Linked DNA regions of Homo sapiens: all the other regions are reported to be linked to region 1. Evidence: microRNA targets listed by miRTarBase, many of them from high-throughput screens and not tested one by one. Region 1 holds a microRNA gene; each other region holds the end of a gene's coding sequence.
Evidence for each region. The annotated mature microRNA hsa-miR-4760-3p reads AAAUUCAUGUUCAAUCUAAACC and lies in region 1 at 2,372-2,393, opposite strand. An mRNA with a match to its seed (bases 2 to 7 or 8) in the 3' UTR can be bound and repressed. Matches are read on the target gene's strand: a 7mer-m8 pairs with bases 2 to 8, a 7mer-A1 pairs with bases 2 to 7 and ends in A, and an 8mer does both.

Region 2: the mRNA of ZNF146 is a reported target of hsa-miR-4760-3p. Seed matches in the 3' UTR shown: 7mer-A1 at 3,791-3,797.
Region 3: the mRNA of SERTAD3 is a reported target of hsa-miR-4760-3p. Seed matches in the 3' UTR shown: 7mer-A1 at 4,378-4,384.
Region 4: miRTarBase lists DSPP as a target of hsa-miR-4760-3p. The part of its 3' UTR that is shown has no 7-base or 8-base seed match.
Region 5: miRTarBase lists UBE2W as a target of hsa-miR-4760-3p. Seed matches in the 3' UTR shown: 8mer at 875-882, 7mer-A1 at 2,252-2,258, 7mer-m8 at 3,602-3,608 and 7mer-m8 at 4,292-4,298.

Annotation. Positions count from the first base shown.
Region 1 is chr21:40,209,988-40,215,093 of GRCh38, forward strand. It overlaps MIR4760 (microRNA 4760), which reads right to left and starts at 2,444; the gene lies at 2,365-2,444. All of the region lies in intron 11 of DSCAM (DS cell adhesion molecule), which reads right to left.
Region 2 is chr19:36,236,945-36,242,050 of GRCh38, reverse strand. It overlaps ZNF146 (zinc finger protein 146), which reads right to left. Exons shown (of 4, transcript NM_007145.3): 4 at 3,283-5,106. The coding sequence ends at 4,732. It also overlaps a transcript of ZNF565 not described here. Among named protein-coding and RNA genes, the nearest start is that of ZNF146, 24 kb to the right of the region's middle. RefSeq lists a silencer at 967-1,167.
Region 3 is chr19:40,436,906-40,442,011 of GRCh38, forward strand. It overlaps SERTAD3 (SERTA domain containing 3), which reads right to left. Exons shown (of 2, transcript NM_203344.3): 2 at 3,939-5,106. The coding sequence ends at 4,585. Among named protein-coding and RNA genes, the nearest start is that of SERTAD3, 4.9 kb to the right of the region's middle.
Region 4 is chr4:87,615,499-87,620,604 of GRCh38, forward strand. DSPP (dentin sialophosphoprotein) reads left to right here. Exons shown (of 5, transcript NM_014208.3): 5 at 1-1,375. The coding sequence ends at 1,070. The region is part of intron 3 of DMP1-AS1 (DMP1 and DSPP antisense RNA 1); the gene reads right to left. Among named protein-coding and RNA genes, the nearest start is that of DSPP, 9.5 kb to the left of the region's middle.
Region 5 is chr8:73,789,324-73,794,429 of GRCh38, reverse strand. It overlaps UBE2W (ubiquitin conjugating enzyme E2 W), which reads left to right. Exons shown (of 6, transcript NM_018299.6): 6 at 315-5,106. The coding sequence ends at 328. Among named protein-coding and RNA genes, the nearest start is that of STAU2, 45 kb to the right of the region's middle.

The DNA.
Region 1 (5,106 bases):
TTTATAATCTTGCTGCAACCTATGTTTCCAGTTACCCACTAACTCCTTCTTTACCCAGACATTCCACCCCAGCACTCAAACATACCTTGTATGTTTCTCCACCTCCCCCATTCCCTATTTTGAGGTCTGAGAACATGGTTTTCCTTTTCCAGGTATGACTGGCTGGCACTGTTTTGCCATTCTGAAAATTACCTCCAGTTCTTCAAGTTGGATTTCATTCCACCTTCCAGGTTAAACTCACGTCCTACCTCCTCTATGGAGCCCTCCCTGACCTCACCCCTACAAGGGGCTCTCCCTTCTCCAAACTCCCACAACTTTTTAATGTATATATTCACATTTATTGCACATATATATCTTTTGGCATTTACTTTTACAAAGCTAAAGTTTTGCAATACAGACTCCTAGGAAGTTGCAAAAATAGTAGAGTCCTGTGTGTCCTTTAGCTTCTGGCCATGTTGTGAATTTCCATAGCTGTGGTGCAATATCAGAGCCAGGAAACCCACATGGGAACATTCCCAGTTAACATTATCCAGTAGACTAGATGCCTTCATCTTTTATTCATTTATTTGTTCTTTAAGATGGATTCTCGCTCTGTCACCCAGGCTAGAGTGCAGTGGCACGATCTTGGCTCACTGCAACCTCTGCCTCCCAAGTTCAAATGATTCTCCTGCCTCAGCCTCCCCAGTAGCTGGGATTACAGGCATGTGCCACCATGCTTGGCTAATTTTTGTATTTTTAGTGGAGATAGGGTTCCACCATGTTGGCCAGGCTGGTCTCGAACTCCTGACCTCAGGTGGTCCATCCTCCTCAGCCTCTCAAAGTGCTGGGTTTACAGGCATGAGCCACTGCACCTGGCCACCTTCATTATTTTTAACCCACATTCATTTGTGTGTATGTGCTCGTGTAGCTCTGTAGGTGTATACTTCCGTTTAACTTTATCCCATTACAGGTCCATGTACCCACCACCACCATCAAATGAGGAACTATTCCACACCACAGAAGAATTCCTTATTCCTATCTGTCTGTGTTTGCACCTGGCCCCATCCTACCCATTGTACCTGTCTACTAGTATCCACTAAGGTATTCTCCACCTCTGCTGTTTTATCGTTTTGAGAATGCTTTATAAAGATAACTTTTTGAAGTTGGCTTTTTTTCACTAAGCGTAATGCCCTTCAGACTCATCTAGGTTATTGTGTGTGTCAACAGTTCATTTCTTTTGATTGCTGAATAGCAGCATTCCAAACTATGGATGGACCATAGATTTTTCAACCATTCACCTGTGAGAAACATTCATTTTGTTGTTGTTGTTGTTGCTGTTTGTCCAGAATTTAGCTACTATAAAGAAAGCTGCTATGGATATTTTTATATAACTTTTTGTGAACATAAATTCATATTTCTTTGGGATAAATGCTTAAGAGAACAATTGCTGGACCACATGGTAAGTGCATGTTTAGTTTTATGAGAAACTGCCAAAGAGTTTTCCAGAATGTCTGCACCATATTACATACCCACCAGCAATGCATGAGAGATCCAGTTTCTCCACATCTTTGCCAGCATGTGGCGTTATAATTTTTAAAAAATTTTTGTTGTTCTCATAAATGTGTAGCCAGGCATGCATTTTTGATGTGTAGACCTATCCACCTATCCATCAGGGCATGAGTCAAACATTTCCAAAGGCAGTGACTTGTCCTTGGTACAGCCCATGATGCATCAGACATGTAGATTCTCACCAAAATACCTATGGACCAACTGCCTTCTATCTAGAAGTGTTATCACACTTTCCACTGCATACTCTGCTAATAGGCACTTTTATCCACACCTCATTATTCTCCTCCATCATTGCCCTCTGGATTGTAAACTGCTTGAGGTTAAAGATGATGTCTTAATTGTGTAGACCCTAATTGTTGGCAAATAGTAGCTGCTACACAAATTTGTGTGTGTGTGGGTTTTGTTGTGGGAGACTGAAATTCTGAAGCTTTTTTTTTTTTGGTGTGGGGGGTGGGAGGGAGTCTTGCTCTGTTGCCCAGGCTGGAGTTCAGTGGCCCAATCTCTGCTCTCTGCAGCTTCCGCCTCCCAGGTTCAAGCATTTCTCCTGCCTCAGCCTCCCAAGTAGCTGGGATTATAGGCGTGCACCACCACGCCTGGCTAATTTTTTTATTTTTAGTAGAGACAGGGTTTCTCTGTGTTGGCCAGGCTGATCTCGAATTCCTGACCTCATGATCTGCCTGCCTCGGCCTCCCAAAGTGCTGGGATTATAGGCGTGAGCCACTGTGCCCAGTCAATTCTGCAACTTTTTTTATTGCAAAGAAGGAAGGGTGCTCAAGGCATAGAGAACAACACAGAGGCCTCACCTTGAGAGGCATAGCCATGGGGTTTAGATTGAACATGAATTTAGTTTTGATACTTAAGAATTCTAACTTCATGTTCAATCTAAACACCATGGCAGCCCTGGTCTCAGCCTTACCTCTGCAGTCTAGTTGTCGCTTGGACAGTACATCCTTTCCCAGTAACGAGATGACACACCCCTGTGCATATTTCAGGCTGCTTTCTATCTTGTTTTTCACCATTCTCACACCAAGAACACCAAGGTTTGTGAGGCCTCTGTTGTATATTGTGACAAAGAGCAATTTATATGGTTGGCAATAAAGCAGGTTTTTTAGGGGTTGATATTTTTCAGTTTAATTTTCATCCCTTTAGTGGGTTGAATTGTGGTCCTTCAAAAATATATCAACATCCCAACCCCTGGAATCTCAGAATATGACCTTACTTGGAAATACAGTCTTTGCAGAGTTAAAGAAAGTAAGAACCTCTAGATAAGGTCATCCTTCATTAGGGTGGGTCCTAAATCCACTGAAGAATGTCATATAAGAGACAGAAAAGGAGAAGGCACAGAGACACAAAAAAGAAGCCATGTGAAGGTGGAGGCAGAGACTGGAGTGAGGCAGCCACAGGCTCAGCAGTGTGAAGGGTTGAGGAAGCCTCTGGAGGCTGGGAGAGGTGAGGAACTGATGTGCCCTCAGAGCCTCCAGAAGGCACCAGCCCTGCTGACTTCTTGATTTCAGATGTCTGTGAGAGAAGAAACGTCTGTTGTTTTAAGCCACTCCATCGTGGTCATTTTGCATGGCAGACCTAAGAAACGGATGCCATCTTCAAGATCATTTGAACAGTATAGAAAAATGTATTTCACAAAACTTTTACTTATTATTTCACATTTTTAAACTTCATATTCCACGTTTTGCTTTATTTTGGGTATCAAGGCTTCTAGGGCATATTTTAATCACCCCAGAAGCATGGACATAATAAGACCTGGTTAAAGAGTGCACTGTGAGTGAGCCATGGGGTGAAGGATCCTGCTGCTGCCTCACAGCCTCCTGCCTCCCTGTGCACACATAGGTTTACTGTCAGGACTGTAATGAGGTTTGCATGAATAAACAGCTTTAGAAACAGCTTTCAAGTTTCCACCAAAATACCTGTTAGGAAGTCTTGTTTCCACCATAATTGCTAATTGCTTACCTACATGTGACCTGGGTATCCATAATGCAGACATGAGCAACACATGATTGTAGAAAATTCTAATTTAAATTATTACATTTTTATTTGGGTTCCACGCAGAAAACATCTTAGGCAGCCACTGCAGATTATTTCTAGAAGCGAAGGGAAACCTGGCTTGGAGATGGAGTGGGTGAGAAGCTAGAAGGGAATCTGTTAAGGATGCCAGGGATGGAGGGGTTCCTTCTCCATGAAAATAAGTGGAGTCAAGGAGGAATCCTTGAGGCAGCCTCTCCAAGACATGCAGGATCATGGGTTTTGACTAGGGGAATTTTACGATATTCTAGTGCAGGGATATAAGGAGGCAATGTCCAGGGAACAGGGCTCTTCCCCCAAAGACAGAACCCCTGGGTCCCTCATCCTTTCCGCATCTTCTGCTGTGTTTGGTATCCAAGGCCCTTGGCCCAGCCATTTGGAGTCCACTCAAATCCACACCTACATGGTGAGGAATAAAGGGAGACAAACTCATTGGAGTCATTGCCCCCATAGAGCTTCCTTTCCTAGACAGACGGAAACCCAGCAAACACACGAAGCGAGACATCAGGCAATGAGTGATACCTGGGTGTAGAGAACAAGGCATCCCTTCTATTCTTGCTCCTAAGGATTTCAGGTAGTTTGTTGCCCAGCCCACTTAGGCTATAAATGCTGCTTTCTCTCCAACTAGTCATAGCTATCAGCCAGCCTGGCCACTTTGGAAATAAGAATATTTAATGCACTCATGGACGTGGGAGCCTGTGTTCTAAGACATTCTTACTCAGTCATAGTTAGCTGAGACTCTAAAGAGTGGCATATGTAATCAAGATAAAATATGAAGTGTGCATCTGGTATATTTTGGAGCCTATAAAGAAAGATTCTGTGCTGATAATATTTACATTGGGTTTTTCTTGTTGTTTTGTTTTTCCAAGATGATGGAATATAGGCATTGTTAGCATTCCTTTTCCACTTGGAAAGATAAAATAGTGTGTAGAGATTCACACTGTGAACTTTTTTCCAAGAAGGAACACAGGACCGTAAACAGCTTTGAAAGAAGCTGTGAGTAGCAGCCTACACCGCTGTCTTTGGGAAACACCACTGAACATGTAAGGATTCTTATAGACTACAGGTAAAGGGTGGAAAAAGAGATTTCCAGCAAATGGAAGCCAAAAACAAGGAGTAGCGATTCTGATATCAAATAAAACGGACTTCAAAGCAACAACAGCAAAAAAAAAAAAAAAAACAAAACAAAAAACAACAAGAAAAAGACAAAGGTCACTATATAATGATAAAATGACCAATTAAACAAGAAGATGTAACAATTGTAAATATATATGCATCAAACTCCAGAGTTCCTAAGTTCTTGAAGCAATCAGTATATCAAAAAGACACCTGTACACATGTTTATCACAGCACAATTCACAACTGTAAAGATATGGAATCCTCACGCCTGTAATCCCAGCACTTTGGGAGGCCGAGGCGGGTGGATCACGAGGTCAGGAGATCGAGACCATCCTGGCTAACAAGGTGAAACCCCGTCTCTACTAAAAGTACAAAAAATTAGCCGGGCGCGGTGGCGGGCGC
Region 2 (5,106 bases), not on the chromosome of region 1:
TTTAAATGTTTACAAAATCCAATTTATCTACTTTTGTTGTTCCTGCTTATACTTTGGTATTATATTTGGTATTATATTTACAAAATCGTTGCCAAATCTAAGGTCATGAAGATTTACTCCTATGTTCCTATGTTTTCCTCCAAGAGTTTATCTCTTATGTTTAGGTCTTTGGACACTTTTGAGTTAAGTTTTGTATACGGTGTGAAGCAAGAGTCCAAATTCATCTTTGTACCTCAATTGTCCCAGCTTTTTTTTTTTTTTTTTTTTTTGACACTCTTCTTGCCAGGCTGGAGTGCAGTGGCACAATCTCAGCTCACTGCAACCTCCACCTCCTGGGTTCAAGCGATTCTCCTAGCTCAGCCTCCCAAAGTACTGGGATGATAGGTGTCCACTACCACGCCCAGCTAATTTTTTGTATTTTTAGTAGACAGGGTTTCACCATGTTGGCCAGGCTGATCTTGAACTCCTGACCTCAGGTGATCCACCCGCCTCCGCTTCACAAAGTGCTGGGATTACAGGCGTGAGCCACTGCGCACGGCCCCAACACTTTTTTTTTTTTTTTTTTTAATACAGAGTCTTGCTCTTGTCACCCAGGCCGGAGTTCAACGGCACGATCTCGGCTCACTGCAACCTCTGCCTCCTGGGTTCAAGCGATTCTCCTGCCTTAACCTCCCAAGTAGCTGGGATTACTGGCCCCCGCTACCACATCTGGCTAATTTTTGTATTTTTAGTAGAGGCGGGGTTTTGCCATGCTGGCCAGGCTGGTCTCGAACTCCTGACCTTGTGATCCGCCCGCCTTGGCCTCCCAAAGTGCTGGGATTACAGGCGTGAGCCACTGCCCCCGACATCATTTTTTAAGGGAATTATTCTTTCCTCCATTAAATAAGTTTGGCATTCTAGTTGAAAATCAGTTGCCCACAGTGTATCAATTGATTTGTGTTGGTATAACAGAATACCTGAGTCTGGTTAACGTATAAGGAACAAGAACATATTGGTACACAGTTCTGGAGGCTGGGAAGTCCACAACTGAGAGACTGACATCTGGCAAGGGCCTTCTTGTTATGTCATCCCATGGAGGAAAGACAAGAGACAGCAAGTGGGGACAAAACTTGCCCTTTTATCATGACACCAATCCTACTCATGAAAGTGGAGACTTCATGGACATCTTTTTTTTTTTTTTTGAGATAGAGTCTCATTCTGTCTCCCAGGCTGGAGTGCAGTAGCACGATCCTGGCTCACTGCAAACCTCTGCCTCCTGGGTTGGAGCAATTCTCCTGCCTCAGCCTCCCAAGTAGCTGGGATTACAGGTGTGTGCCACTACACCCGGCTAATTTTTGTAATTTTAGTAGAGACGGGGTTTTGCCATGTTGGCCAGGCTGGTATTGAACTCGTGACCTCAGGTGATCCACCCGCCTCGGCCTCCCAGAGTGCTGAGATTACAGGTGTGAGCCACCACGACCAGCCCCTTCATGGCCATTTTAAGGGTCTCAACCTTTCATGCCATTACCATGGCAATTAAATTTCAACATTGAGTTTTGGGTGGGACATTCAACCCATAGCATTTGTGGACTCTCAATTCTCTTCCCACTGATCTGTCTCCATCCCTGTGTTTTTCCTCCTGGTTTTGTTTGTTTTCGACAGGGTCTCTGTCACCCAGGCTGCAATATAGTGGTGCAATCACGGCTGACTGCAGCCTCAAACTCCTGGGCTCAAGCAATCCTCCCAGCTCACCCTCCCAAGTGGCTGGGACTACAGATGTGTGGCACATGCCTAGCTAGAATCATCTCTAGATTAGTCATAATACCTAATACAATGTAAATGCTATCCAAATAGTTGTATATTAACATTTGTATTTTTAAAATTGTTGTATATTTTAAACACTTTCCATCCAGGGTTCGTTGATAAATGGATGCAGAGCCCATGGATACAGAGGGCCAACTGTATCATAAAGACAACACCTTTAAATGTGAAATATATGTGCAAACAGGGAAAACAGAGAAAAAGATGGGGTACATCATAATATAAAGGGCAGATTCATTTAGACATTTAAGTATCTAATTCCTCCAAAAAGGCTAAAAGATACAGTGATGCAGTGCCATTTAATGAGTTTTTTAAGGTTTCAAAATCAAGCTCAAATGCTGTATATTATTGACATTCACCATTATTCAAGAAAACCTTTAATAATATTCTTTATATTATAATGTGATCAAAGAATAAAAAAATTTTCATGAAGGGCTGGTTTACAAAATAGAACTCTGTCTAGGGTCTGAGCCATTTTTCTCATACCCGTCCCATTCTCTCTCTGTAACAGCAGTGGGAGGAGTGACAGAGCTCGCAGGTTAAGACAGACACGCAGGTGTTGGTATCTAATGCACTGAACTGTGGAAGTTATGGGAAGTTGTTTTCTCTTTTTAAAAATAAAATTAGCTGGGCATGGTGACTCATACCTGTAATGTAATGGCAGCACTTGAACAGGCCATGGAGAATCACTTCACCCCAGGAGTTTGGGACTAATCTGGGCAATATACGGAGACCCCATCGCTACAATTTTTTTTTTTTAATTGGCACAGCATAGTGGTGCGTGCCTGTAGTCCCAGCTACTTGGGAGGCTGAGGTCGGAGGACTGCTTGAGCCCAGTAAGCAGAGGAGATTGCAGTGAGCCAAGATCCTGCCATGGTATTCTGGCCTGGGCAACAGAGCAAGATGGGAAAAAAAAAAAAAAAGATATTATCAAAAATTTAATATTTAATGCACACGTTTCCCATGGAAATATGCAGGAGAGGAAAACTGACATTCCAAAATCAGCCTAACTGAAAAAGACCAATTATATGAAGCCTGTGCATGTATGAACAAAGAAAAAGTTAAAGTTTTCTAAGCTCATTCTGCAAAATGTTAGAAATACGAAGACAGAGATCATATAGTGCAGCGGTCCCCAACCTTTTTGGTACCAGGGACCTGTTTCATGGAAGACAATTTTTCCACGGACGGTTTGTGGGGGTAGAAGAATGGGGATGGGATGTTTTCAGGATGAAACTGTTCCACCTCAGATCATCAGGCGTTACATTCTCATAAGAAGCGCACAACCTGGATTCCTCACATGCACAGTTCCCAATAGGGTTCGCGCTCCTATGAGAACTAATGCCACCGCTGATCTGGCAGGAGGTGGAGCTCAGGTGGCAATGCTCGCTCACCCGCCACTCACCTCCTGCCATGCAGCTGGGGGGAGCTGGGGACCCCGATATAGTGTGTATGCCATGTTAAAATAATTAAAACAGATTTGGATTGTGCTGTCCTTTTAAATTTTAATAAAATAGATTAATTTCATATTACATAGAGAGCAAGTCCATCCATTCATCCGTGATAAAATTTTAGAAATATTTTCTATAAAATGTTTAGTATTTAATTGGAAATGAATCCAGTATAACATGACTTCCACAGATACAGCATTCCCATCCTCACTCCCATTCCTATTTTGAGAAATTTTAAAAATACAGAAAAGTACAAAAAATAAGACAAGATATCCCTATACCACAATCCAGAATCAATCAGTATCTTCTTATATTTACTTGAAGTCTTTTGAAAGAGAAGTGGATGTTTATATAAAAAGCTGAAGTCCCCTTTAACCAATACCCATCCCACCTCCCACACTCATTATTTTCCCTTCTCCACTCTTCACAGGTGACCACTATCAAGAGTTTGGTCTGTATCCTTCCAATCCGTTTCAAAAACATGTACATACATATATGCATCCATTACCAATAGATAGTACTGAGTTTTATGAGGAAACTTTTAATTCAAATTTACAAAAAAGTCATTGTACTATCTGTATCATTCTGCAACTTGATCCCCCCTCAACAATTCTGGGATCTTTCTGTTAATACATGTGGATTTCATTTGTTGCATTTTACAGATATATAGTATTACATAAGAATTTCCCATATTGTTCGTGATGGGCTTTCTCAGTTGTTTCTAATTTTTGGCTACTACAAATCAAGCCACAGTAAATATCCTAGTGCGTATTTCCTGAGCATTCATACTCATAAGTAGAACCGCTAAGTATTTCTCAAATTGTTCCAAGGAATGTTTCCCTATTCCCAAGGTCATATGCATTTTAGTACATAGCTTTTCCATATTTCTGTTTTTAATCTCTGGATTCACTTTTGTGTATAGTTCATGGTCTATTTTTCCCCCTTGGAGAACAAACTACCTCCACTTAAAAAAAATAGTTCCATTATTTCCTCATTTCCTGATGCCACTTGTATCATATTCCAAATTCTAATAAATGCATAGGTCTTTTTTTGAAATCTCTTCTGCTCTGCTCAATCAATACCACAGGAGTCTTAATATTAGTTGTAGATGACCATGTCATCTATTTTTGTCTGTTCCTTTCCAATATTTACAACTTAATTTTTCTTGTTACTGGCGAAGATCTCCAGATCTATGGTGGTAGCAATAAAAAACAGGCCTCCATTTTCTGTTCCCACTTTTAGTGAAAATGTGCCTAAACTTTCACCATTATCTCTGCTGCAGGTTTCTCTGTTGGACACAGGGTTTTAATCATATGCATGTCTTTCTCTTCAGTACAAATTTTCTGGTGTCCCTTAAGTTTTTAGTACTTGTTAAAGTTAACCTCATTCGTGGTGCTTTGCTTCAGAAGGATTATTTCTGGGGCATGATGAGGTGCAAATTTCTAATGAAAGCTTTCCCACTTTCAAGGCTTTCATGGGGTTTTTAGTGAGTATGAATTTTCTGGTGTCTAATGTGGTGTGACTTCTGGCTGAAAGCTTTCCCACATTCACTGCACTGATAAGGCTTCTTACCTGTGTGTATTCTCAAATGCAGAGCAAGGGTTGAGAACTGAGAGAAAGCTTTCCCACATTCATTACAACCATAGGGCTTCTCCCCTGTATGGCTTCTCACATGCACAGTGAGAGATGAGCTCTGAGAGAAGGCTTTTCCACAAACATTGCATTCGTAAGGTTTATCACCTGAATGAATCCTCACATGTACAATAAGTGATGTTCGCTGAGAGAAGGCTTTTCCACATTCGTTACATTCATAGGGTTTCTCTCCAGTGTGAATGTTCTGATGTTTTATGAGGTACTT
Region 3 (5,106 bases), not on the chromosome of region 1:
CCGAGTAGCTGGGACTACAGGTGCCCGCCACCTCGCCCGGCTAATTTTTTTGTATTTTTAGTAGAGACGGGGTTTCACCGTGTTAGCCAGGATGGTCTCAATCTCCTGACCTCGTGATCTGCCCGCCTCGGCCTCCCAAAGTGCTGGAATTACAGGTGTGAGCCACCGCACCCGGCCTTTTTTTTTTTTTTTTTTTTTTTTTGAGACAGGACCTCCCTCTGTTGCTCTGTTCCAGATGGAGTGCTGGAGTGCAGTGGTGTTATCTCTGCTCACAGCCTCCATTTCCTGAGCTCGAGCGATCCTCCCACCTCAGCCTCCTGAGTAGGTGGGACTACAAGGGCATGCCATCAGCCCAGCTAATTTTATTTTAGTTTTTTGTAGAGATGGGGTCTCCCTGTGTTGCCCAGGCTGGTCTTGAACTGGACACAAGCGATCTTCCTGCCTCAGCCTCCCAAAATGCTGGGATTACAGGCGTGAACCACTGCACCTGGCCAAGTTTTTCAACAACAAATAATTTTTTTTTTTTTTGAGATGGAGTTTCGCTCTTGTTGCCCAGGCTGGAGTGCAATGGCACGATCTCAGCTCACCACAACCTCCGCCTCCTGGGTTCAAGTGATTCTCCTGCCTCAGCCTCCTGAGTAGCTGGGATTATAGCCATGTGCCACTACGCCTGGCTAATTTTGTATTTTTAGTAGAGACAGGGTTTTTCCATGGTGGTCAGGCTGGTTTCGAACTCCTAGCCTCAGGTGATCCGACCGCCTTGGCCTCCCAAAGTGCTGGGATTATAGGCGTGAGCTACCGTGCCTGACCCTTCAACAACAAATAATTTTGGAGAGTGCAGTTGTGCCAAGCATAGTTCTAGGCACAGACCAACACAACCCTCAGAGTTCCCAGGAGAGTAGGAGGCTACCTATAGATGGGAAATAAGTAACTCGAGATTGGGTAGATGCTACTAAAACAAAATCAGTCCAGGTGCAGTGGCTCATGCCTGTAATCCCAGCACTTTGGGAGGCCGAGGCGGGCGGATCACCTGAGGTCAGGAGTTCAAGACCAGCCTGACCAATATGGAGAAACGTTGTCTCTACTGAAAATACAAAATCAGCTGGGTGTGGTGGCGCATGCCTGTAATCCCAGCTGTTCGAGAGGCTGAGGCAGGAGAATCACTTGAACCCAGGAGGCGGAGGTTGTGGTGAGCCAAGATCGCGTCATTGCACTCCAGCCTGGGCAACAAGAGTAAAACTCCGTGTCAAAAAAAAAAAAAAAAAATTAGCCAGGTGTGGTGGCATGTGCCTGTAATCCCAGCTACTCGGAAGGCTAAGGTAGAAGAATTGCTGGAACTGGGAGGTAGAGGCTGCAGTGAGCCAAGATCATGCCACTACACTCCATTCTAGGAGACAGAGCAAGACTCCATCTCAAAAAAAAAGAAAGAAAGAAAATCAAACAAGTTGTGGTGGGGTGGTGACCCACCTGGATGTGTTGAGCTAGGAAGGGCAAGGAAGACCTCCCTGAGAAGGGGATATTGGGATTGGTGAAGCTATTGGGGAAAATGTCCACTGGGAAAATTTAACAGTTAGGGCAAAGGCCCTGGGGTGAGAAGGAGCTGGGGTCAAGGGAGCCCAGTTGAGTGATGGAGAGAGTGGGAGATGGAACTGAGAAAGTTGTCCGAAGTGAGAATAAGTCAGTCCTTGCAGGTCTTGGTGGAGCTGGCGCTTTATTGAGTGTGTCAAGAAGTCACTGGAGGCTGGGCGTGGTGGCTCATGCCTGTAATCCCAGCACTTTGGGAGGCTGAGATGTGAGGATCGCTTGATTCCAGGAGTTCAAGACCAGCCTGGGCTACATGGCACAACCCCATCTCTACAAAAAATACAAAAATTAGTCAGGTGTGGTCCACGTGCCTGTAGTCCCAGCTACTTGGGAGGCTGAGGCTGAGGTGGGAGAATTGCTTGAGTCCATGAGGTGGAGGTTGCAGTAAGCTGTGATTGTACCACTGCACTCCAGCCTGGGCGACAGAGCCAGAGACCCTGTCTCAAAAGAAAAAAAAAAAAAAAAAGGCACTGAAGGTTTCAAGGAGGAAGACATGATTCAATTGCCATCATATTGGGATGCAGACCTGGTTGCTTACCTTTTATTTTTATTTTTTACAATTCCACAGCAAGTATCACACCTGGTTGCTTTTTTTTTTTTTTTTTTGAGATGGAATCTCGCTCTGTCACTCAGGCTGGAGTGCAGTGGTATGATCTCAGCTCACTGCAACCTGTGCCTCCTGGATTCAAGTGATTCTCCTGCCTCAGCCTCCTGAGTAGCTGGGACCACAGGTGTTTGCCACCATGCCCAGCTAATTTTTTGTATTTTTAGTAGAGACAGGGCTTCGCCATGTTGGCCAGGCTGGTCTCAAACTCCTCACTTCAGGCAATCCTCCCGCCTTGGCCTCCCTAAGTACTGGAATTACAGGCCTGAGCCACCGCGCCTGGCCTGTACCTGGTTGCTTTCTTTAGATCCTCTGGGCCACCTCATTCCTCTCTCTGGATTGGCACCCACCTCTTCAGGTTATCCCTCCACTTTCTGACAATGACCCCTTCAGGTTGAGAAATCTGGCTTTGACCCAGAAACCACAAGCAAAATCCCCATCCTTTCTCCACCCATGGACTATACTCAGGTGTTGTTCCTCCTCGCAGCCCTTCCAGAAAAGTCCCTAATGCTGTGTAGCTCACTTGCTTCATCTCTTCAAAGACCATTGTAAAGGCATAGCCTGTACAGGTATCACATTACCTCTTCCTTCACTTCCTTCACCTCCTTCTCCTCTCCTGTATCTCAGCAGCCTGGGCTCGTACCTCCGAAATAAAGCATCAGCACAGGTCAGGCACAGTGGCTCATGCCTGTAATCCCAGCACTTTGGGAGGCTGAGGCAGGCGGGTCACTTGAGGTTAGGAGTTGGAGACAAGCCTGGCCAACATGGTGAAACTGTCTCTATTTTAAAAAAAATACAAAAATTAGCTGGGCGTGGTGGCAAGCACCTGTAGTCACTGCTATTCGGGAGGCTGAGGCAGGAGAATTGCCTGAACCCGGGAGTGGAGGTTGCAGTGAGCCAAAATCCTGTCATTGCACTCCAGCCTGGGTGACAGAGTGAGACTCCGTCTCAAAAAAAAAAAAAAAAAAAAAGCATTAGCACTATAAATCTAATCTGGGCTCTGCTTCCTAGCCAACTCTCCTAAAGAGGTCTTTTAGTACTGGGGGTCTTTGGGCATTTTCTTGCCCCTCTGGGCTCAGCAGCACATTCAGTGACACATACTCCGTGTGACTCAGTTTCTCCCTCCTGTGCCCACCCACGTGGCTGGTTAGTCTAAGAAGCAACATTTATAATAGTGAAGGACAAGGCTCTGGAGGCCATTTCAGCCTAGCTCCCTGGTCCTTGTTCTTCCTAGCTGTGTGGCTCTGAATTAAGTGACTTGTCCTCTCTAAACTTCTGGTTCCTCCTGTATAAAAAGTGGTAACAGTACTTACTTCTATATGAGGATTAACAGACTTAATTCAAATAAAGTGGCTAGAACAGTGCTCTTAACAAGCACTAATTTTTTTCTGAGGCTGGAGTGCAGTGGTGTGACCATGGCTTACTGCAGCCTCAACCTCCCAGGCTCAGGTGATCCTCCCAACTCAGCCTCCCCAGTAACTGGGACTACAGGCCGCCATGCCTAGCTCCTTTTTGTATTTTTTGTAGAGGCAGTGTTTCGCCACATTTCCCAGGCTGGCCTCAAGCAGATCCTCCCAAAGTGCTAGGATTCCAAGTGGGAGCTAGAGCACTCAGCCAACAAGCACTCAATAAATGTCATGTACAATGATACACCTACCCCAGCTATGGCACGGAAGTGGTGCTGATGTTTAGGAACTTACCAGGTCCCTCCCACTGACCCAGTGAAGTTTAGAAACATTAGACAACATCCCTCCTTCCAAAATACTTTTATTTAAAAAAATTACAAACAATCCAAAAAAAAAAAAAAAAGCCACCACAAACTCTGCCTTTCTTTTAAATAACCCGGCATGGAGCAGTTTGGTTTCCACCCTATTGCACGTGGTCCGGCCTGGTTATGAAATCAGGAGGCTGCTGAGACTGGGGTCCTGCCGAGGAAGTGGGGTTCAGCCTGGAGGGAGGACACCAGCCCCTCCCACCCCCTCAAGGTGCAAGAGGCAGAGCCTGGGTTTCTATAGCAACCTGGCAGCACATCCCTGTCATCCTTCGACAGGCCCAGCTTTCTTTATCTTCCCTGAGGCCCCAGTGGTCACAGGGGAGTGGGAACTAGCAGGAAAGGTGGAAGAAATGTGTAAGTGGAAAATCAGACTCCCAGAAACAGAGTCTCGTTAAGGCATTTGGAATAGATAAATTAATTCAGGAAGACCCACCTTCACAGAAGGTCGGGGTAACCAGACACACACACACATGCAAGACAGTTTGTGGAACCCTGAAATGGGAACAAAGGAGGCCATAGTCACTGCTTCGAGCCCCCACAAAAACACACACCCAGAGTTGCATTCAGGGATCCAGGCCACCGAAGATGACATGAGGAAGGATCGATCCCCTCTATCACAGTTTTAGGACCCCAGAATGATTTCCATGATGTGATCCAGTTCATTCCACTCCCAAGAACCTGGGGCACAGAAGAGGTTGTGAGGAGGCTCTGGTGGGGCCCGTGCAGGCTCCTTTTCTACCGCAGATGTGTCAATGTCCAGAAAGAAGTCATCCAGGCCAGAGTCCCCCAAGTACCGGGAGCTCAGAGCTTCTAAGAAGACTGGATCAGGCTGGGGTGGCACTTCATTCTGGAGGCCAAGGGGAGTCACTGGATTCTGAGGGGGCTCAGTCCCATCCATGGAGGTGTCCAGCTCCCTGAGGATAGAGCCAATGGTGGCTGACAGGGAGAAATCCTCCTCGCCCAGGAAGAGGGGCTCGGGGGGCAGGGCAGGGGCGGGAGCCAGGCGAAGTGCAGCCTGCAGCTGTTGGAGGGTGTTATGGATGAGGACATGCCTGCGGAGGCTGGGTGCTCGGGGGCCCAGGCTGCGCTGGACTTTGTCTAGGGAGATGCGGAGCAGGGCTTGCTGGTAGCTCTGAAGGCCTGC
Region 4 (5,106 bases), not on the chromosome of region 1:
ATAGCAGTGACAGCAGTAATAGTAGTGACAGCAGCAATAGCAGTGACAGCAGCAACAGCAGTGACAGCAGTGATAGCAATAGCAGCGACAGCAGTGACAGCAGCAACAGCAGCGATAGCAGTGACAGCAGTGATAGCAGTGACAGCAGTGACAGCAGTGATAGCAGCAACAGCAGTGATAGCAGTGACAGCAGTGACAGCAGTGATAGCAGTAATAGTAGTGACAGCAGCAATAGCAGTGACAGCAGCAACAGCAGTGACAGCAGCGATAGCAGTGACAGCAGCGATAGCAGTGACAGCAGCGATAGCAGTGACAGCAGTGACAGCAGCAATAGCAGTGACAGCAGTGACAGCAGCGACAGCAGTGATAGCAGTGACAGCAGTGACAGCAGCGACAGCAGTGATAGCAGTGAAAGCAGTGATAGCAGTGACAGCAGCAATAGCAGTGACAGCAGCGATAGCAGCGACAGCAGCGACAGCAGCGATAGCAGTGACAGCAGCGATAGCAGTGACAGCAGTGACAGCAGCAATAGCAGTGACAGCAGTGACAGCAGCGACAGCAGTGATAGCAGTGACAGCAGCAACAGCAGTGACAGCAGTGACAGCAGTGAAAGCAGCGACAGCAGTGACAGCAGCGACAGCAGTGACAGCAGCGATAGCAGCGACAGCAGCGACAGCAGCGATAGCAGTGACAGCAGCAATAGCAGTGATAGCAGCGACAGCAGTGATAGCAGTGACAGCAGCGACAGCAGCGATAGCAGCGACAGCAGCGATAGTAGTGATAGCAGTGACAGCAGTGACAGCAGCGACAGCAGTGACAGCAGCGACAGCAGTGACAGCAGCGACAGCAGTGACAGCAATGAAAGCAGCGACAGCAGTGACAGCAGCGATAGCAGTGACAGCAGCAACAGCAGTGACAGCAGCGACAGCAGTGATAGCAGTGACAGCACATCTGACAGCAATGATGAGAGTGACAGCCAGAGCAAGTCTGGTAACGGTAACAACAATGGAAGTGACAGTGACAGTGACAGTGAAGGCAGTGACAGTAACCACTCAACCAGTGATGATTAGAACAAAAGAAAAACCCGTAAGATTCCTTTTGTGAAAAGTTTGGTAATGGGATAGGAAAAAAAGATTTCCAAGAAAGTAAAGAAAGGGGAGAAATAAACATAAGACGTATGTAAACAAAAACAACTGGGGGAATCAAATCAAACAGTTGGATTCAGAACCAAGACCTAACTCCTGCAGAGACAGACTCTGAATGCATGACCTTTGGTACATGCCTGTTAATATTCATGTTCTGAAAATATTTTGTTAAAAGTGTAAATCTAAACATAAAAGAACAATTAAAATATTCTTTAATACTTCACACAGAAACCTCAAGTAATCACTACATGATAACTTCAATTTAAGTGCCATGTGCTGCAGAGAATGTAGCAGGCAGACACATCTTAAAAGCAACCTGTGGCATTGCCTTAAGTCTCCATAGTTATATATTCTGGAGAGGTGGTCTGCTTACCGCTGAGTAAAAGATGCTGTACTGTGATAGCCAACTTGGCTTTGGATTCAGTTGCTTGTTCTATGGAAGAAATACATTTATTTGTTACATGAAAAAAAATTGCAGCTACTATTCAACCTACCTGGGCTATGGGAATAATCTTTCTAATGATCAAATAGAGTAGTTATAAGTCACAGAAATTCTAAAGAGTGCTAGTCAGAAAGAGCTCAGAGACAGGTTGATGTATAAAATCTGATCTGTAATCTGATGTATAGCATCTGATGTTAAAATCTGATGTAAAAAAATACATCTCAACAAACCACTGGAAATTTAGTACAAAGTCCCTAAAACTATTGACAAAGCTGATGCAGTGCTTAGAACAGTGTCTTACTCCCAGGAGCCACTCTCCAAATGTTAACCAGTAAATGACACATGAATGACTCTGGAGGAGCATCACTTAGAAGCGCGGTGGCTCACGCCTGTATCCCAACACTTTGGCAGGTCGAGGTGGGCGGATCACGAGGTCAAGAGATCGAGACCATCTTGGCCAACATGGTGAAACCCCGTCTCTACTAAAAATACAAATATCAGCTGGGAGTGGTGGCGCGCGTCTCTAGTCCCAGCTACTTGGGAGGCTGAGGCAGGAGAATCGCTTGAACCCAGGAGCGGAAGTTGCAGTAAGCTGAGATCGTGCCACTGCACTCTAGCCTAGCGACAGAACGAGAGTCCGTCTCAAAAAAACAAACAAACAAAAAAACTGTGTTATGTGGTATCAATTATTTATCTTTACATCAGTCTCACCAAGTCATTCTTAGTTCACATTTCCCTTGAAAACCTCAACACGCCAAAACTTCTAAACCAGACCCTGAGTCTCCCTTCCCACTATTAATCTCTTTAATAAAGCTAAAGCTGCTGGTGGGTAATGGTTTGGAAAACTTCTCTTTCTTATTTGAGAGTCATATATGCAGTTACGATCTGAGTATATATCACTCAGCTTTGGCATGAATGAAGGTAATTCTTAGCCCCAAGATGAAGCCCAATTTCTAGAAAATGACAATCTTAAAGGTGTATAGAGAATAGAGATTGATATTTAATAGTGTGGAGATATAGTTTATCATCTAAATTAGGGCACTTTGGAGAATGAAAGGGGTGTTATGAGTAATTATACGGAGACAGGAGATATAAATTGGGGTTGTCCCAGGGAAACTGGGAGATACTATAACCCTAACCCATAAACCTTAAGGGTATTTTTCAAGATTTAGTAGTGACGCTTTGAAATCTCCATCTTTTTCCATTGAGGTAATTATTTTAGCTTTGTTCTAAAGCAAAGCTGAAAATCTATAGAGTGAGATTATGAATGCAACTTCTTTAATGTTAATTTTCAACCAGTTGTTAGTTGACCATTTACCTTCTAATATTAGGCATATTTTATGAAGAGTTTCAGGAGGTTTATTTTTCTGCCTTCTTCCTCCTCTATGCAAGTGTCCTTAGGTAAGAGATCAACATTGTGAGGAGTATTGTTGAAGACTTTAAAAATACTATTCATAAACTTCTTGGTAACTCTTAAGAGTGCAAAATGTCCAGGTTTGTACTACATCACAGTCATGTCATGACTCTAAACTTCTTTCCATATAATATGTTCTAGGTTTTTAATTTCTTTAGATTTTAGGGTTTTTTCTTTCGTTTTGTTTTGTTTTAATTTGTAAAGCATTGCTTCTAGTATGTGTCACAACTATTTCAAAAGGTTGCTATGAACACTAAGTCAGGCAATGGACATGGAACTCTGTAAACTACACAAGATACATAAATGAAGGAGATAAATCTCGGTGTTATAATAAATATCCATTTATTAAAGTAAATATCCTTTTATACAATTGCTCACAAAGAAAATTCCCTTCATCCTAAAGAGTTTGCAAATACCCCCTCTATCACAAAATCTGATGTATAATATTTCTTTTAAAAATTAGCTATTTTTAATTAAAAAAGTAATATATGTATATGCACAAAATAAAAAAAACAAACACCATAAAGAGGTATACAGAAGTATTATCTTAAATCTTGACCCTTCTACACTCCCAGCCCTCTATATCTCTTTCCTATTGCCTATAAGCAATTCCCATTACTAATATCTTGTGGAGCGTTTCAGAAATATTCTATGTACATACATTCCCCTTTTAAAAACATGTGGAAGTTTACTATACACAATGCGTTCATCTTATTTTTTTCAATTTAATAAATACCTTAAATATTGGTTCATAGCACACAGATCAACTTCATTTTTCTTCACGGGTGTGCTGTATTTCGTTTTATGAAGTGCCATAAGGTATTTGATCTGCCTTTATTGTTCCATCACTTTCTAAGCCATTTCCAGTCTGATAAAAGTCTCTGCAGATATTGCCTGCAGTAACAGCCTAAGCTGGATCAATTTCTAGCCAGTTCTTATAAAGAATTTACTTTAAGAAATATTTAGAGGCAGGGAATGTTCAGAATCTAGGGTTGATACCAGAAGTAACAAAGATATGATCTTGATTTTCTTATATAATCACATCTGCATTGACTTCTGGACTTTCAGGGAAAGAATGGAGCAGACACACTACAAAAGAACATCGCAAAAGTAGATCCTTTGAACACAAGAAGTCTGGTATTAGGAAACAAAGCTTATTTTGAGTTATTTTCTGGAATAAAGATTAATAGGCTGTCTGCTAATATTGCCCACAAAAACAGTATTTTTTAAACTGCAGGTTGCCACTCATTTAGTAGATCATATCAATTTAGTGACTAATGATAAATATTTTATAAAACAAAAGAATAAAAAAGAAAAATCATAATGTACCATCTGTACTGTTTTGTGAACCTGGATCATATCTATCTATATATGTACACACACAAATATGTCCAAGTGTACATGTAGTAGGACCTGATGGAAAATGCCTTTCTTATTGTTGATTGTAGTTTTAAAAAGTTTGAAAGCCATTGGTTTAGAAAATAATTACTGCTAGTAATCATTTTATATTCACTTTTTCACATTCACTTTTTCCCTAGAAACCTCTAAGTTTCTTTCCCACTTTGAAGCAGAGATTTTAAAGAAAAAAGAAAGAAAGAAAGAAGGATGTATGTGTAGACGGACAGGGAAGAGTGGCAGTGGAATGCGTTTCTAGATTTATCTGTACCACGGTAAAAAGAGCCAAGGAAACATTGTCACTCTTGAACAAGAGGCTATCAGGATGGTGCTGGTGGACTTGTTAGAAATTCAAGATTTCTTTCTGGCTGCATGGATTACTCCACAGATGACTGAAGACAAGATCTGAAAACTTACTCTCAGAGGTGGTCTTGTCCTCCCCATCGACCGGAGAATTCTCTCTGTGTCGGTCATACCACAAATCAGGAAATGTGGTAACAGGTTTTGTTGTTGTTGTTTAAAAAATATATTTTTTACATAAAAAGATAACATTTATAAAGTTATACTTCACCATACAAATACATTTAAAATTATTAACTGAAGTGTAATTTCCCAGAAGTCAAACTTGCTTTATGATTTGTAATGGAAGTTTTGAAAAACTTTAGACCAAAATAACCAGGAACAATTTTCCTCTCCCTAAAAGGAGCAGG
Region 5 (5,106 bases), not on the chromosome of region 1:
AAAATAATTCTCTTAAGATTGATACATCCTGACTATGTACTAACATGTCATGTCAGTTTATTATTTTAAATAGAATGTGCTAATAACATATCATTTTAAGGTTTATGTGAACTATTTCTCTGAAAGAATAAAAATTTGTCACTGTATAATTGAACATATATTGCACTTTGTATTCACAGGTTTGGGGGAGGCAGATCAGACATGTAAACTATGTACTTCTTGCTAATTGAAATTATTTCTACATTAAACAGACTTGTAGAATTTACTTATACATGCTTGACTTTTTAATTATCTTTTTTCTCCTTTTCTTAAAGATGATACTTGTTGATGCCACTGTTATCATCCTCCTAGCAGAAGATAGTCCTACTGAGAAAATGAGCACTTTGATCATTCAGTCTTTGAACTTTAACCTTTGACTGGAAGTGACCTATAGGCAATGAAGACTACTTCCTTTTACTGCATTTTTACTCGTGTGCATTCTGGGCGCATGTTGATCGCTGGTTCAGTCCAGGCAACTGACATGCTTTTATTAGTCATACAGTATTAATGCAGGTGTCAGGAAATGTCAAATATAATTCCATTTTTTATTTTTATTTTTTTAAGCTTTTGGAAAAGCTCCAGGTCCTCATGTATTGTGCAATAACAATGACTTCCTTGGCGGTTTTGGTACGTTCATTGCCGGCAATGGGCGTTGTAACAGGAAAAGTTTTCATTAACTCCTGCCATTCAATGATTAATGCATGATAGGGCCTATGAAATGAACTTACTGGTTATAGTGGGAATATAAATAAAGTGAGGGATCCAACATTACTTTAAAAGTCACCCCAACTGTTTATATTTGGATTCTATGCACTGTGATCCTAAGGTTAACAGCATGAATTAACATGCGTCTTTAAAGGACTGTAATGAAAGATCATTGCATATTTATTGAATTGTTTATATCTACTGTCAAGTTGTTTTGACATGGAAGATTTTCAAGTAACATTGGCAGAGAGGTACAGTATGTTATCCCTATGGTGAAAATAAATTAATTTGTTGTATATAGTTCCTCAATCTCTGAAGTAAAGGTATGAGTAATATAGGGTATGAATGGTTTAATCAAGGCTTTATTTTGGAAGTAAGAAAAATGGCAGTGATGATTAAATTGCTGCAGTCCATAATTTGGGCTTGTTATTTGTACATTAAAGATTTTTTCCAAGTAAGTTACACTCTGTTAACTTCCTGCTAGCCATCAGCATGAGCCCTACTGCCTAAACACTATTTCATTTATTTATGTTTGGAAACCCCGTAAACATTTTTGTTTGCAATCTTGTTTCTTTTGTTATAAGTCAAGTTTGAATGTTACAATACTTTTATTGAAACTTTTGTTAAGTTTTTTCTTGTAAATTTTCTTTACTTGTGAGTATCATCTTGTCCTTTAATCCTGTACCCTAAAATAAGAAATACATTTTTGACAGAGGCTTAATGTTTTAACAAAAGAGTGTGGACATTTTTATTTTAAAATTTAGGCAAAAGTCACTATCAAATGGTTGCTTATTTGTCTCACACAGCCATATAGTTTTTCCTGGAGGGTTTTGTTTTGTTGTTGTTGAAAAGACTTTGCTTACAGCTAGATGAAACTTTCTATAGAAAAAAAAAATTGTTGAAAGGTCCAGTTCTCAGTACCATGTGAGTTAATGATACTACAACTAAGTTCTTTTTAAAAAGTGATTAATGTATTTTATAAATTACCTTTTCACATATGCAAAATCTGTTTCTACTACAATGTTATTTTTACTAATGCCTTATTGTTGCACTCTTTTTGAAATATCCTGCAGTGAATATATGAATCAATTTGGGCTTAAAACTGAAAGCCAGTTGGCTGAAAGGTTTGAAATACGTACCCCAGTAAAACCATTCAATCAATAATTGGTAAATAATATTTTAAAATTGTTTTTAATCTGTATAGATGACATTTTGTAGCTTTGTACATGTTGTTAATTAAGGGCATATAATTTTACACTCAAAGTATAATTGCTGAACTCAGGGGTGGGTAGACTTCAAAAATATGTCTGCTATAGAAATAACTTGAAAAAAAAAATTAAAACCGTGGCCAGCCACCAAATTGTGGACACTGTTTATATACTGCTAGTTAACAATTACCACTTTTAAAAAATTATAACCGTTTTTGTTCTATCTTGACTAGATAAATTCTCACAATGATCTCTGTCAGTTTTATTAGTTGGCCTGTTTAACCAAGACAGAAAGTCTTTGAATTACTCATAGTTTTAAACTGCTTTTAATATGAAAATTGCAGCTGTAAATTATGTATTTTCATATTTTGCGTAACTGCTCTACACTACTGTTTGACTTGATCTTCTTCTGGGGGTTAGGGAGAAATCTGTCTCCATATTGCTGGTTCTCTTACCAAAATGCTTTTATAAAGAAATGACCGGTGACATTTATTCACCAAAGGAATTAATATACTGAGTCAAAGATTAACAATGCTATACTATAGAGTAATAGGTCATATATAGCCTCAATTGAGTTTTTTATGACAATATTTTAACATACCTCTCTCTCTACATATAAATACCATAAAGTAAACTAAAATGACACAGAGGAAAGTAGAGGAAAATGAAATAATTTCGGTACATCTTATGGTTTAAAGAGTAGAAAATAAGATGAAATATCCTAAAATATAGGAGCACAGACATTTAAAATTCATAATCAGGCTAACAACACTCTCTTGAATTTAGGAATCATTGAAAACTCCTTGCACTTAGATTTAATTTATATGTTAGTTACATTATTAAAAGTCATAAGGCATTTATCTGAGTCATTGCTCTACAGAGAGCAATTAATGGCTTGTAATAATAAAAAGAATATTTCTCTGTAATGCATTGTTGAAAGACAACCAGAATATCAAGAAAATGTATATAGGAATATGCTACTTGCCTCCTCCCTGCATTTCCTCGTGGGGCACTATTTGCGACATAGGCCTACAGAATTAGACTTTCATACTTAGAAGATAAGGTACACTCTTCTTCTTTTATTTATTTATTTATTTATTTTTAGGCCATTCTTCTGGTTTGCCAAATTCTATTAAGACAGTGATACATTTGCTTCCTTATTTATGCATGCTTAGATCATGAACATGATGCCCTTCTTTTTTTTTTTTTTCTTTGGTCAAGTAGGGATTAATGCCATAGGTTTAGAGAGAAGGATTGTTTTCAGTTTTTAAGAGAATTTTTTAAAAATACATTTTATGGTTCTCTTAAGGAATTAATATTCACTTCTGAAGGACTTACTTGTAATATATAATTTATCATTTTAGCCAGCAGGGAAATAAATCATTTTTAATCCCCAGAAGAAAGTGCTGGAAATAGCTTCTATATAGTCAGCAGTTCACCTGGAGAAAGATCTTAATTCCTTGTTGTTTTGACTAGGAATATCAATATTTGGTATAAAATAACTAGAATAGTTTATTACCTTTTCCCTCATGAAATTTTAAATATATGCAAATATATATATCATTAGATTCCTGTGGTGGATAATAATTTCTTCAGATTCTAAAACAGGTGTCTAGTGACTGCTTAATTGTTTCCAAGTTGCATCAAAGATGAATTGGTAAATAATGGAAATGAGTAGTGATATGAAAATGGTTATGTAACTACATATTACTTGTTTCTGGTAATCAAGTCTTATTTTTTAAAAGCCTATTGTTTTTCAGAATTGAGATATTTAAAACTTGTTATAACTTCTTCCTAAAAATAGAAGAGAAGAGGAGGTACTGTGTGTTACAAAAATTTTTTTAAATAAAGAATTCAGTGTCACTAGTTCTAAGCCTTTATGGTTACTGCTGCTTATATTTCTTGATCTCACTTTCATTAATTTTTTTGTACATATCTTAGCTGAATGCTTAAAATTTACAATTATTTGTAATTGTGTATGTAAATTGCTTTTCAAAAAGAACTGAAGCTTAACCATATTCTTCTTTTCTGAGGATTCATTATCAGAATCAGCTACTATACTGTTCTGTGTTATAGTAATGCCGTTACTGCCTGTGCATGATTGAGGTCTGTGAAGAAGGTGTCTTTTAATCTGCACCAACTGGCCCCAATCCTCTTTGTAGTCCTTTTTAAATTGTTTTAAATCTGTCCTTTATTTTTCTTCCTATTTTTCTGCCTCTTCCCACTGATGTCCAATGTGTCAGTCTTCCGCAGTTTCCTTTTCTCACTTCTAATTTATTCTCTCTTTTTTTTTTCTGAGGTTAGGGATTCTACAGAAGGACGATTATTAAAATTATGCCATGAATTTTTGAAAAATTTAAAATGCTCTCCTACAAATAAAATACATGGAGTTTCTGATACTAATTTCAGTTTGTCAGTAGATGGCTAAATTTGTTGAATAATTGACTACTTGGTAAATGAGCTGTTAGCTGTAATTAGTTCTTTAGTACTAATATTAAGGAAATTTTGTTATTTTCGGATGAGGACTCTCCCAAAGCCAAATTATTGTCCAAGCAAATTATTTATTTTTTCCATTTAAATTTCTAAGTCATTTTGAGATGTGGAATGATTATTTTTATTATTTATTTATTTATTTATTTTTGAGACGGAGTCTTGCTCTGTCACCCGGGCTTTAGTGCAGTGCACGATCTTGGCTCATTTCAATCTCCACCTCCTGGGTCTAAGCGATTCTCCTGCCTCAGCCTCTTGAGTAGCTGGGATTACAGGCATGTGCTGCCACACCTGACTAATTTTTAGTAGAGACAAGGTTTCACCGTGTTGGCCAGGCTGGTGTTGAACTCCTGACTTCAAGTGATCTGCCCACCTCAGCCTCCCAAAGTGCTGCGATTACAGGCATGACCCACCACACCCAGCCTGGAATCATTTTTTAAAAATAATTTGTGGGAGACTTGCTTTCTCAACATAAATTGTGTGTGGGTTGTTTTTTGTTTTTTGAGACGGTCTTCCTCTGTTGCCCAGGCTGGAGTGTGCAGTGGAACAGTCATTGCAGCCTTGACCACCTTGGCTCAAGCAATCCTCCTGCCTCCCGGGTAGCTGAGTCTACAGGTGTGTGCCACCATGCCTGGATGGATAGAATTTTTTTTTTTTTTTTTTT